Homo sapiens: one gene and its partners. The protein of the gene in region 3 purifies or fractionates together with the protein of the main gene of each other region. This does not show direct contact. Each region holds a gene or a part of one and is shown on either strand. Other genes may lie near its edges.

What was found.
Region 1: the proteins of DHX57 (region 3) and ZCRB1 purify together in Homo sapiens (co-immunoprecipitation; one large-scale study listed by IntAct). This does not show direct contact.
Region 2: the proteins of DHX57 (region 3) and MEX3C purify together in Homo sapiens (pull-down; one large-scale study listed by IntAct). This does not show direct contact.

Annotation. Positions count from the first base shown.
Region 1 is NC_000012.12:42,319,437-42,323,094, forward strand, and holds part of ZCRB1 (zinc finger CCHC-type and RNA-binding motif-containing protein 1), read right to left. Parts: intron 3,011-3,658; coding exon 2,982-3,010; intron 1-2,981.
Region 2 is NC_000018.10:51,187,568-51,191,225, reverse strand, and holds part of MEX3C (RNA-binding E3 ubiquitin-protein ligase MEX3C), read left to right. Parts: intron 1-3,658. UniProt on the Homo sapiens protein: E3 ubiquitin ligase responsible for the post-transcriptional regulation of common HLA-A allotypes. Binds to the 3' UTR of HLA-A2 mRNA, and regulates its levels by promoting mRNA decay.
Region 3 is NC_000002.12:38,869,336-38,872,993, forward strand, and holds part of DHX57 (putative ATP-dependent RNA helicase DHX57), read right to left. Parts: intron 1-3,658. UniProt on the Homo sapiens protein: Probable ATP-binding RNA helicase.

The DNA of each region.
Region 1 (3,658 bases), on a different chromosome or scaffold from region 3:
TCCTTCATCTTTCACTGCTCCTTCCCACGCACACACTATGAAGTCTACCCAAAAGAAACCACTCAATGCTCCAGTAGCATGGCCTGTATTTCCCCAAATTTGTGCCTTTGTTCATACAGCTTCTATCTTCTTCCACCTCTGAATCACTGCTCATTAAAATTTTCCTCATTCTTTCGGGGTTCAGGTCAATGTGTCAGTTTCTAATAGCTTCAACTGGATATAATTTCTCCTCCGTTATGCTAGTCTCTGCTGAATTGTGTTATTCATAAACAATGCCTCATCTCATCTATTTTAATGTAAACTCCTTTAAGGCTGTCTCTGTAATCCATATGTGCCCAGCTCAATATGTTGATTGATAGATATACCTTTATATTCAATGGGAAAGACAGACCAAAAAAATGGGAAAAGTAGTTTCTAAAAGAGTACATTGTGTGTGTTCATTCATTCGGTCACTCAGTCACTCTGTTAGCCTCAAGCCCATGTGCTAAGCACTAACAGTAGTTTTTACCCTCAGGAGAAATCTTACAGTTTAGTGGTAGAGACAGACCAACAAACCAACTATCATACAATACTTTGATAGAGATACCTTCTGTGGTAACAGAAAAAAAAAATTACATCAGAGATTTAAAAGGACAAATCTACTGTGACTCCCATGTTTCTGGCAAGGGAAAAGAGGTAGATAATAGCACCATTTCCTAATATAAGGTATATGATGTACTTATTTAAGCACATAATATGAAGCATACACTATTTTGGGAAACCTGAATGTCATCCATAACACCTCCTTCTTGTTCACAAAGTCCTTATACGCAAAGTAAGCATATCACTAAATAGTACCCACTTTGCTTCCTATACACATCACTATTACCCACTTTATTTCATAATGATCTCTGAAATCTGACCACCTCTCAAATCTGACCAGTCTCTATATCTCCACCTGTACTATTTTAGTACACATTTCTCCCCTGGGCTACAGTTTTAGATTCAGACTGGTCTCACTGCATTTGCTTTTTTCTTTTTTTTGCGATGGGGTCTTGCTCTGTCCAGGCTGCAGTGCAGTGGTGTGATCTTGGTTCACTGCAACCTCCACCTCCATCCGCCTCCTGGGTTCAAGTAATTCTCATGCCTCGCCTCCCAAGCAGCTGGGATTACAGGTGTGTACCACCAGGGCCGGCTACTTTTTGTATTTTTTGTAGAGATGGGGTTTCTCCATGTTGGCCAGGCTGGTCTTGAACTCATGACCTTTCAAGTGATCCTCCCACATCGGCTTCCCAAAGTGCTGGGATTACAGGTGTGTGCCACTGCACCCAGCTGCATTTGCTTTTGTTCCCCTCCAATCTAATTTCTACATTAAGCCAGAATAAACTTTAAAAAATTTAAATCATGTCACCCCTCACTTAAAATTCTTAAATGATTCCTGATATTCTTAGAATGAAAACCAAATACCTTGGTAACCTGACCAAGAAGTAAGATGAGGAACCTGCTTCCATCTCTGGAGCCACCTTGTGCTTTCTCCCCCTTACTCACTCATCTCCAGTCACATTGGCCTTCTTTCTATTTCTTGATCTCACTTTATTTTCTCTTGCCACAGGGCCTTTGCACAAGCTATTCCCTCTACCTGAAATATTCCTCCCTTATTTTTGCCTACTTAACTCTTACTCATCCTTTAGGTTTCCACTCAAAAAATACTGACCTAGGTAAGCCTTCCCTGGCTCTCTAGACTAGATAGTCTTCCCTGTTTCTAGGTGCTTATAACTCTCGTGTCTTTAACTCCATTGCAGTTTCATGGTTTAGGACTATATATTTATATGGAGATCCATTCAGAGATTCTAACAAAGTGGAAAAAGAAAAAAGGTAAAAGGGAGTGGGCTCTGAAATCTCACTGTTGGATTCAAATATTTTCTCCACCACTAGCTAGCAAGATGACCTTAGGTTTACTGTGTGCTTCAGTTTCATCATGTATAATACTGAGATGATAATAGTACCTACCTTAAAGGGTAGTTGTGAGAATTAAATAATACACATAAAGAGATTAGAACAATGCCTGGCATATATATGTGCTCATTTAAGTATCACATACCATCATCATTACCAGTGTTTGGACTGATGACAATGACTTTTTAAAATCTGAACACCCAAAAATTTACACAGAAGCATTTTTGATAATGCTTTTTTAATAGCAAAGTAACTGTAAAAGAAGTTAGTAATTTCAAGATGCAAAAGAGCTTCAACTGTTTAATATCCATTTATGGAACACTAGAAGAAATTAGCCAAGATAAATATGCTCAAAATTCTTGGGATTTTAAATTTATATCAGAATCTATATTGGTTACAAGAAAGTTAGGATGACAGTATCCTGTTACTTTTTTGCCCCATAATATAGTTGCTTGATTTAAAACAGTGAAATACGAGAAGTTCAAGTTCTTTTTATTGTTCCTAACCCTCAGCCCTGTTATCATCCATTACCATTTTTGCATGTTTCTAGTCTTTCCAACGATCTCCAAGCTATCTCTGAAGGAAGATAATATGTTTTCTATTTAAAAGACTCATAGCATCCTGCAAGTCAGATGCACTGAAATATTTGTTTTTACACTATTTATATGAAAAAAAACAAAACAAAAAACCACCTATTTATTTGAAAGTAGGTTACTTATAGTATACTTGATAACACACTTCCTAGTAACCAAAATATTTGTTTACCATTAGCTATGAGGATGTATCTTTATAGCACATGGAAAGACATTTATGGTATGTCAAATTAAAAAAGAAAAGAAAATTGTATGTATGTAATAGTCTTTAAGAAAAATTGTCTACATGTTTATGTACATGGAAAACCAACTAAATTGTCATAAAAATGTTAATAGTATTTTCTTTATTATATCAAGCATGTTTTATTTTTAAAAATCTGTCATTAAAAAAATGTAGAAGCAAATTCAGATAAACTTTTAAATGAAGTTACAAAATTTAATGTGAATACTTACTTTACAACTTTGCCATACTTGGAAAATATCTGAAACAAAAGACCAAATATTTACAATTTATTTTAAAATCATAAAACATCAAATTTTTAGGTTGCAGACATTGACCAAATTCTTTGTTACAGTTTATGAATAATTTCAGCCTTCAGTCTATAAGACAGGCCCTAGGAAAAAGTTTTTTTTGGTTACTAGAATAATATACTTACTGTTGTTGGAGTCACATGTATCTGTCTGTTTCTAAATTTGACAATGGAGTAAATACAGAGAAAAAAACTCACTCTACACATGTGGTAGATCTAAGGCATACATACTGGACAGCTGCTGTGTTCCTGAGGTATACCCATGGCAACTATCAACTCCATCATAGTGCCAGATACACCTGTGCTTCAAATGTCAATCTTATGGAGCAGCACTTTTCCAATTCTACCCTCACCACTACCTTGTTATTCCTATTAAGCAATCCCTGTTTGAGAAGGCAAATCCTTAGACTGCTTTATTTAAAAAACAAAACAAAACCTCATAAAATAAGCTTTTATAATGAAAAATCCATTTCTATCAGTCTTCTTCCTCTGCCCACCATTAACATGTTGGTGGAACTTTATACTTGGCTCTCTCTTCTGTTACTTTTACTTTATCCTATGCAATCTCATTTATTTCTACAGTTCCAGCTCATTACCCAT
Region 2 (3,658 bases), on a different chromosome or scaffold from region 3:
GAAAGTATATGACAACTATGTGCCCACAAGGAGAGCCATGATGACTACTACAGTACTATTTTATAATTTATAGGATTGTTATAGAATTCTAAACAGTGTCATTCCTGCCATGTAGAATTTGTAACCAAACTCAAGATGAGAAAGTAGATAATGTTCATAAGATACTAAAGGAGTGTATTTGCACTTAAAAATAAAAAAAGCTTTTTAAGAAGCTCCAAGTAGATCATGGATAGTTATGTTTAAATCTCCATTGATATTCAGGTGATCCTTAAGTGATACCTTTTTTATTAAACTGCATTCTTAATGCTTCCCAAGTAGCTTATATGCCATAATTTGTGGATTTACTTTTAACATTTTCCCCATGCTACCATTAGTTACTATATAGAGACTTACAAAGATTAAATCTGATATTTAAGCCTTGAAAATAATTTTCTAATGTTAGGATTACCAAACCCAGATATACTAAATTGAATGTATGCATAGTCTAATACTGTTTGAGTAGTTCAAGTCTTTATTCTATAACTGACTTTGAGAATTTTAAGTTACACTAACTATAGGACCTCTTCCATGCCAGTGTTTGAGATGTAAGGACACTTCAAGTGTTTGTTGCCCTTGTCCGGTAAGTACGGACTACAATTCCTCATTGCATGCAGAGAAGCCTGGTTTGGTCACAAGTAAAGTCTATCATGGAATAATAAGACTAAGCCTTAAAATAATAAAAGAAAATCCTTTAATGAAAACTGCAGATGTAGTTGAAGGTAAGCATAAGTAATTTGGTCTTGAACATGATTGAAGGGGAAGTGGGGAGGGAATGGCTTCAAACAACTAGAAAAGATCTCCCAAAATGGTTACCAATGTAAAAGTATATATTTGCATTTGGGGCTGACCTTTTTATTATTATTTCCCTTCTCTGTGCCTCCCTTTCCCTTTGCCTTCTCTTCTGCCTTTCTACCAGTGCCATTTAGTATAATGCAGGAAAGGACATTGGACTTGGAGTTAGAAACCTTGTGTTTTGCACTTGCTGCCTGTGACCTTGGATAAATCACTTAACCTCTCTGAGCCTGTTTTCTCTTCTGGAAAAAACCTACTTCATCTACTTGTTCTTCCAGGTTTCTCTCTCCCCTCTCCCTCATTTGTTGTGAGGATCAAGTCTGAGAAGATAGCATTAGTAGAAATTGACAGTACAATTGAAAGTACAGAGATGATAAATTATATATCAGATAAGGTAAATTTTTACTGCTAAATTTCTTTTATACTCTGAACAAATGCTAGTTAAAGCCAAAAAATGTCATTTTAGTAAGTTTTTCGTAGGCTATACCAATAAATTATGTAAGTTATATTTTTTAAATTTATAATATGTCTTAAAATTTATTTAAAATCAGAGCTTTGGAAATGTATTTCCTGGCAAAGAACTAAGCAAGTCTGGAAGAGAATCATTTACAAATGAATCTAATTCCATTGTATGGTACCCAGACAGATAATTCTAAGGTTTCTGTTAACATTCTCCAAAGAGCATGAACATAATTTCAAGCTCCCCAGTTAGGAAAACTTCTGCCTTTCATCTCTAATTTACACCCTCTTCTGGTTTTTTCTTTCAGGTTTACTGAAAGGCCAAATAATAAAACTTTTCATTAAATATTTTTTATTGTCTTGTCTAAAATAAGTGAAAAAAGAGGGGTTTTAGATTTAATTTAACTTCTGTTTTTTAAAATACCTTGTACATGCAGGGAATTCTTCTCCACTCCTAAAAATACACTAGAAATATTCTTATTGGGATTTAGGAAAATAAGGCAGCTTGAGAGAACATTGGTTTAGGGGTCACTAGTTTATAACTGGACAATTTTAGGCTTCGGTTTTCCTCATGTCTAAAATGAGATTTAACTAGGTGGTCTGTCACATTTCTTATATTCTGATTTTTGTCCAAAGAGAGTCCCTAAAATGAGGTAAAAGTAAACCAGATTTCATATTACCAGTTAGATTGACTTTGCAAAATCTTCTCAATTTTGCAAAGTTTATGATATGTTTTATCTTTAGGAGTTTCTTTAAATGTTTTTAACTCCCTATAAAAATCAGTTCACTTGTCTTTTAATAACAACAAACTTGTGTCAGGCACTGTGCAAAAACTACATGTGTCATCTCATTTAATCCATTCTTAATTCCACCGAACAGATAAACAAGTCTATGGAGTTACAAACAACTTATCCAAGGTCTCAAGCCATTATTGTTTGAGACTTCAACGTGCCTATCTCAGTAAGTGGTAGAACAAGTAGACAAAAATCAGCAAGGATATTGTAGAAGATCTGACTACTGTCACCAACCAACAGTATAAGAAAAGAAAATAGGTCACTATGTGTACATGAACATGTATCACTAAATACTTTCAGTGCTTGAAGTTAATACAAGTCAGTGAAGGTAGAACTGAATCTTAGTCATCTTTGCATTATTAATATTGGTTAAAGTACCTAAAACAAAGTGGAATACTTCCTTTTTATTTTATTGAACTAAATTTTTTTCTTATAAACTTGCCATTTTATTGTTTATATCATTGTACTTTCCATATTGTTTTAATTGGGGTTTTCTTCCCTCTTGCCTTTATTCCCAGCATTTTTTTTAATTTTTTTTTTTTTTGAGACAGGGTCTCACTCTGTCGCCCAGGCTGGAGTGCAGTAGAGCAATCTCAGCTCATTGCAACCTCCGCCTCCCAGGCTCAAGTGATCCCCAGTAGCTGGGACGGTAAGTGCACACCACCACGCCTGGCTAGTTTTTTGTATTTTTGGTAGAGACGGGGTTTTACTATGTTGCCCAGGCTGGTCTTGAACTTCTGAGCTGAAGCTGAGCTCAAGCAGTCCACCCACCTCGGCCTCCCAAAGTGCTGGGATTACAGGCATAAGTCACCACAACTGGCCAAACAGCTTTTTATGTAAGGACCCAGTCAACCTCAAGTTGTTTGGCACTTTTGTTTGAAGTACAGTAGATGCTACTTGATTGAAGGCATTAAATGTTTATATGAATACTGATAATGAAACTAAAATCACATAAATGAAGGTGTTTGAAGTATTGTCATAGTAATCCCTAAAGTGAGACAAACAGTATTCTTGCCTTAAAATAGCTACAAGGAGGCCACTTGAACCCTAGAAAGGAAAGCTATTAGTTTTATATTATGCATTTAGGAATACATTGCATTCTTAAATTATTACTTAAAATGTTGAATTAATGTTGTGTACATGAAACATTCTTACTGGGATTTAGTTGATACTCATTAGTCTTTGAAGATAGAATACTAGAATTGATTAATAGAACTAATGGCAATTCCATATTTACTGTAACACCTTAATACAGTATTTTATGTGTTTCTATAAAATGAAAGGAGCTTTTGAATATTCTGTCTAGACTATTCCAAGGGGAAAGGGACCTTATTTTGTATAAAATTATTAATACAACCCCTTCATTCATTCTTATATATCATGAAACGTGAGATGATTTAGGGTTTTTGTTTGTTTTTGTTTTTGTTTTTTTTGAGACGGAGTTTCGCTCTTATTGCCCAGGCTGGAGTGCAGTAGTGTGATCTCTGCTGACCTCAACCTCCGCCTCCCGGGTTCGAGCGATTCTTCTGTCTCAGCCTCCCAAAATGATGTGTTTTTAGGGGAAAATAGTGTGA
Region 3 (3,658 bases):
GTGAGGTTGTGGGGAAAGGGAGATTACAGGATTAAATGAAGATGTAGTTTAGACTGTTGGCCAACTAGTTTGCAGGAAGCAAACCAAGGAATAAGATCACTAGGAAGTTCCTTTTTGGGATTAGAATGAGTATTAAACTGGGATCTCAGAAACTATTGCTTCAAAGAAGCCATACTTTGGTTGGATTAGTTTGTAAAGGAATTTACTCTCCAGAGCATTGTTGAAAACAATTCAGCAATCAACCATGGGCATACCTAAAGCTGTACCTCCCAGAGGAGCAACAACAGAGGCTTAAAATCGTAGGAGGGAAATAGACTTCACTAAAATATTCTAGCCAGTCACTAAAAATTAAACCAGCAAATAACAATAAGAAGCCCCTGAAAGGGGAGAATCAGTACCCAGAGTTGTTACAGTATGTTATCCAAAATGTTCAGTTAACAACAAAAAAGTCACAAGGCATGCAAAGAAACACTTAAGTATAACCCATACACTGGAGAGAAAAAGCACAAACTGCCTATGAGTGAGAACAGATGTCAGATTTAACAGAAAAGGAGTTCAAAATAGTCATTATAAGTATGTTCACAGAAATAAAGGAATGCACAATTAAAGCAGTAAAGGAAGGTATGATGACAATGTCATATCAAATTGAGAACATCAATAAAGAGATAAAAAATTATATATATAAAAAGAACCAAATGGGAATTCTGGAGTTGAAAAGTATACTAATTGAAATTAAAAATTCACTAGAGAAGCTCAACCATAAACATGAACTAGCAAGAGAAAGAACTGATGAACTTGAAGACAGACTGACATTGATTATGCAAGCTGAAAACAGAGAGAACGATAAATGAAGAAAAGTGAACAGAGCCTTGGAAAAATGTGGGACACCATCAAGGGTACCATATACATATAATGAGAATACCAGAAGGAAAGGAAAGAAAGAAAAGAGCAGAAAAAATATTCAAAGAAATAATGGTAGAAAACTTCTCTGATTCATTAAAAATCAATAACCTCTACATGCAGGAAGCTCAATGGCCTCCAACTATTAGAAAATAAACACAGAGATGCACAAAATAGACATGTTGCAATAAAAATGTTGAAGGTCAAAAGACAAAGAGAAAATCATGAAAGGAGTAAGAGAAAAACAACTTATCACTTACAGGGGGGAACCCCAATAAAATTAATGACTGATTTCTTCACAGAAACAATGGAGGGCAGAAGGTAATGACATATATATTTAAAATACTCAAAGAAAAAAATAGGGCTGGGCGTGGTGGCTCATGCCTGTAATTCCAGCACTATGGGAGGCCAAGGCGGGCAGATCACGAGGTCAGGAGATCGAGACCATCTTGGCTAACACAGTGAAACCCTGTCTCTACTAAAAATACAAAAAATTAGCTGGGTGTGGTGGCACACACCTGTAGTCCCAGCTGCTTCGGAGGCTGAGGCAGGAGAATCACTTGAACATGGGAGACAGAAGATGCAGTGAGCCGAGATTGCGCCACTGCACTCCAGCCTGGGTGACAGAGTGAGACTCCATCTCAAAAAAACAAAAAACAAAAAACAAAAAAAAAACAACAAAAAATAGTTAACCAAAAATCCAGAAAAGCTATCTTTCAAAAATGAAGGTAAAATGAAAACTTTCTCAGACAAACAAAACTGAGAGAATTTGTTGTCAATAGACCCGCCTCACAAGAAATACTAACAGTTCTTCAAGTTGAGGCAAGTATCCCTGGATGGTAATTTAAATCTACATGAAAAAACAAAGAGTACTAGTAAAGGTAATTGAGTAATTATTTTTAAAAATCCACATTTATATTGGACATTTATTTATTTGAAAACCAGTACAAAAGTATTGTCTCTTCTTTTCTCTGAAATGATTTAAAAAGCAGTTATATAAAATAATATGTATATGATATAATGTTGGGCATGTCACCTACAAGAAGGTAATATGTATGTAATATATTTGCCAATAACAGCACAAAGAAGATTGGTGGGAGCGTAATTGTGCTGTGCTGAGAAAATGACTACAGACAGTAAAGTAATACTTGTAACAAGTATAGTTGGGTATATAACATTAATAGATATAATATGTATAACAATACTATAAAAAGGAGGAAAGGAATAGAGCTATATAAAAGTAATACTTCTATGTATCTGTCTTAGTCTGTTTTCTGCTATAACAGAATGCCACAGACTAGGTAATTTATAAACAACAGAAGTTTATTTGTCTCATGGTAATGGAGGCTGGGAAGTCCAAGAGCATGATGCTGGCATCTGCGTAGTGTCATCTCATGGTGGAAGATGGAAGGCAGAAGTGGGCACGATACAGAGAGAGGTACCAGCTGCCAGACTTATTTTATAATAACTCATTCTTTTTTTTTTTTTTTTGAGACAGTCTCACTCTGTTGCCCCAGCTGGAGTGCAGTAGCGTGGTCTCAGCTTACTGCAAGGTCTGCCTCCCTGGTTCATGCCATTCTTCCACCTCAGCCTCTGGAGTAGCCGGGACTACAGGTGACCGCCGCCGGCTAAGTTTTTGTTTTTTTGTATTTTTAGTAGAGACAGGGTTTCACCATGTTAGCCAGGATGGTCTCGATCTCTTGACCTTGTGATCCGCCTGCCTCGGCCTCCCAAAGTGCTGGGATTACAGGCGTGAGCCACCGCGCCCGGCCTAATAACTCATTCTTGCTATAACTAACCCACTCCCATGCTAGTGACATTAAACCATTAATAAGGGCTCTGCCCTCATGATCGAATTACCTGTTATTAGGCCCCATCTCCTAACACTGTTGCATTGGAAATTAAATGTCTAATACATGAACTTTGGGGGTAAACATTCAAACCATAGCAATATTGCTGGAATTAAGCTAATATAAATCTGAAGTTGTTCATAAACCCCAAAGCAATCACAAAAATACTACATTAGAAAATATTCACTTAATGACTAAATGCAAATGAAAGCATAAAGTAAGAACAGAAGAAAAAATAGACATTGAGAAATACAGACATCCAAAAGTAGAATAGAGTTAGATGTAATTCTCAGTATATAGACAATAAAAATAAATGTGAGAGAATAAAGCAGTCCAATCAAAAGACAGAGATTGTCAGACTTGATTAACAAACAGGATCCAAATATATTCTGTCTGCAGGAGAGGCACTTTAAATTCAAAGACACAATAAATGAAAAGTAAAAGGATGGAAAAAGATGATCTTGCAAACAGCAACTACAAGAAAGGTGGAGTGGCTATGTTAATAGCTTACAAAACAGACTTTAAAGCAAAAAATATTACTAGAGATAGGGATATTTCTTAATGATAAAAGGGTTAATCTGCCAGGAAATGATAACAATTAAAAACACATATGTACCTAATAATAAGGCACCAAAATACACAAAGCAACAACTGACAGAAATGAAGGGAGAATTAGACAATTCAATAATAATAGTAGGAGACTACAGTACCTCACTTTTAATGGTAGAACAACTAGACAGAGGATCAACAAGGAAATAAAAGACTTGAACAACACTCTAACCAACTAGACCTAATAGGTGTCTATAGAACACTCCACCCAACAACGAACTATACATACTTCTGAAGTACACATGAAACATTTTCCAGGATATAGACCATACTAGGTGATAAAAGAAACCTCAATACAT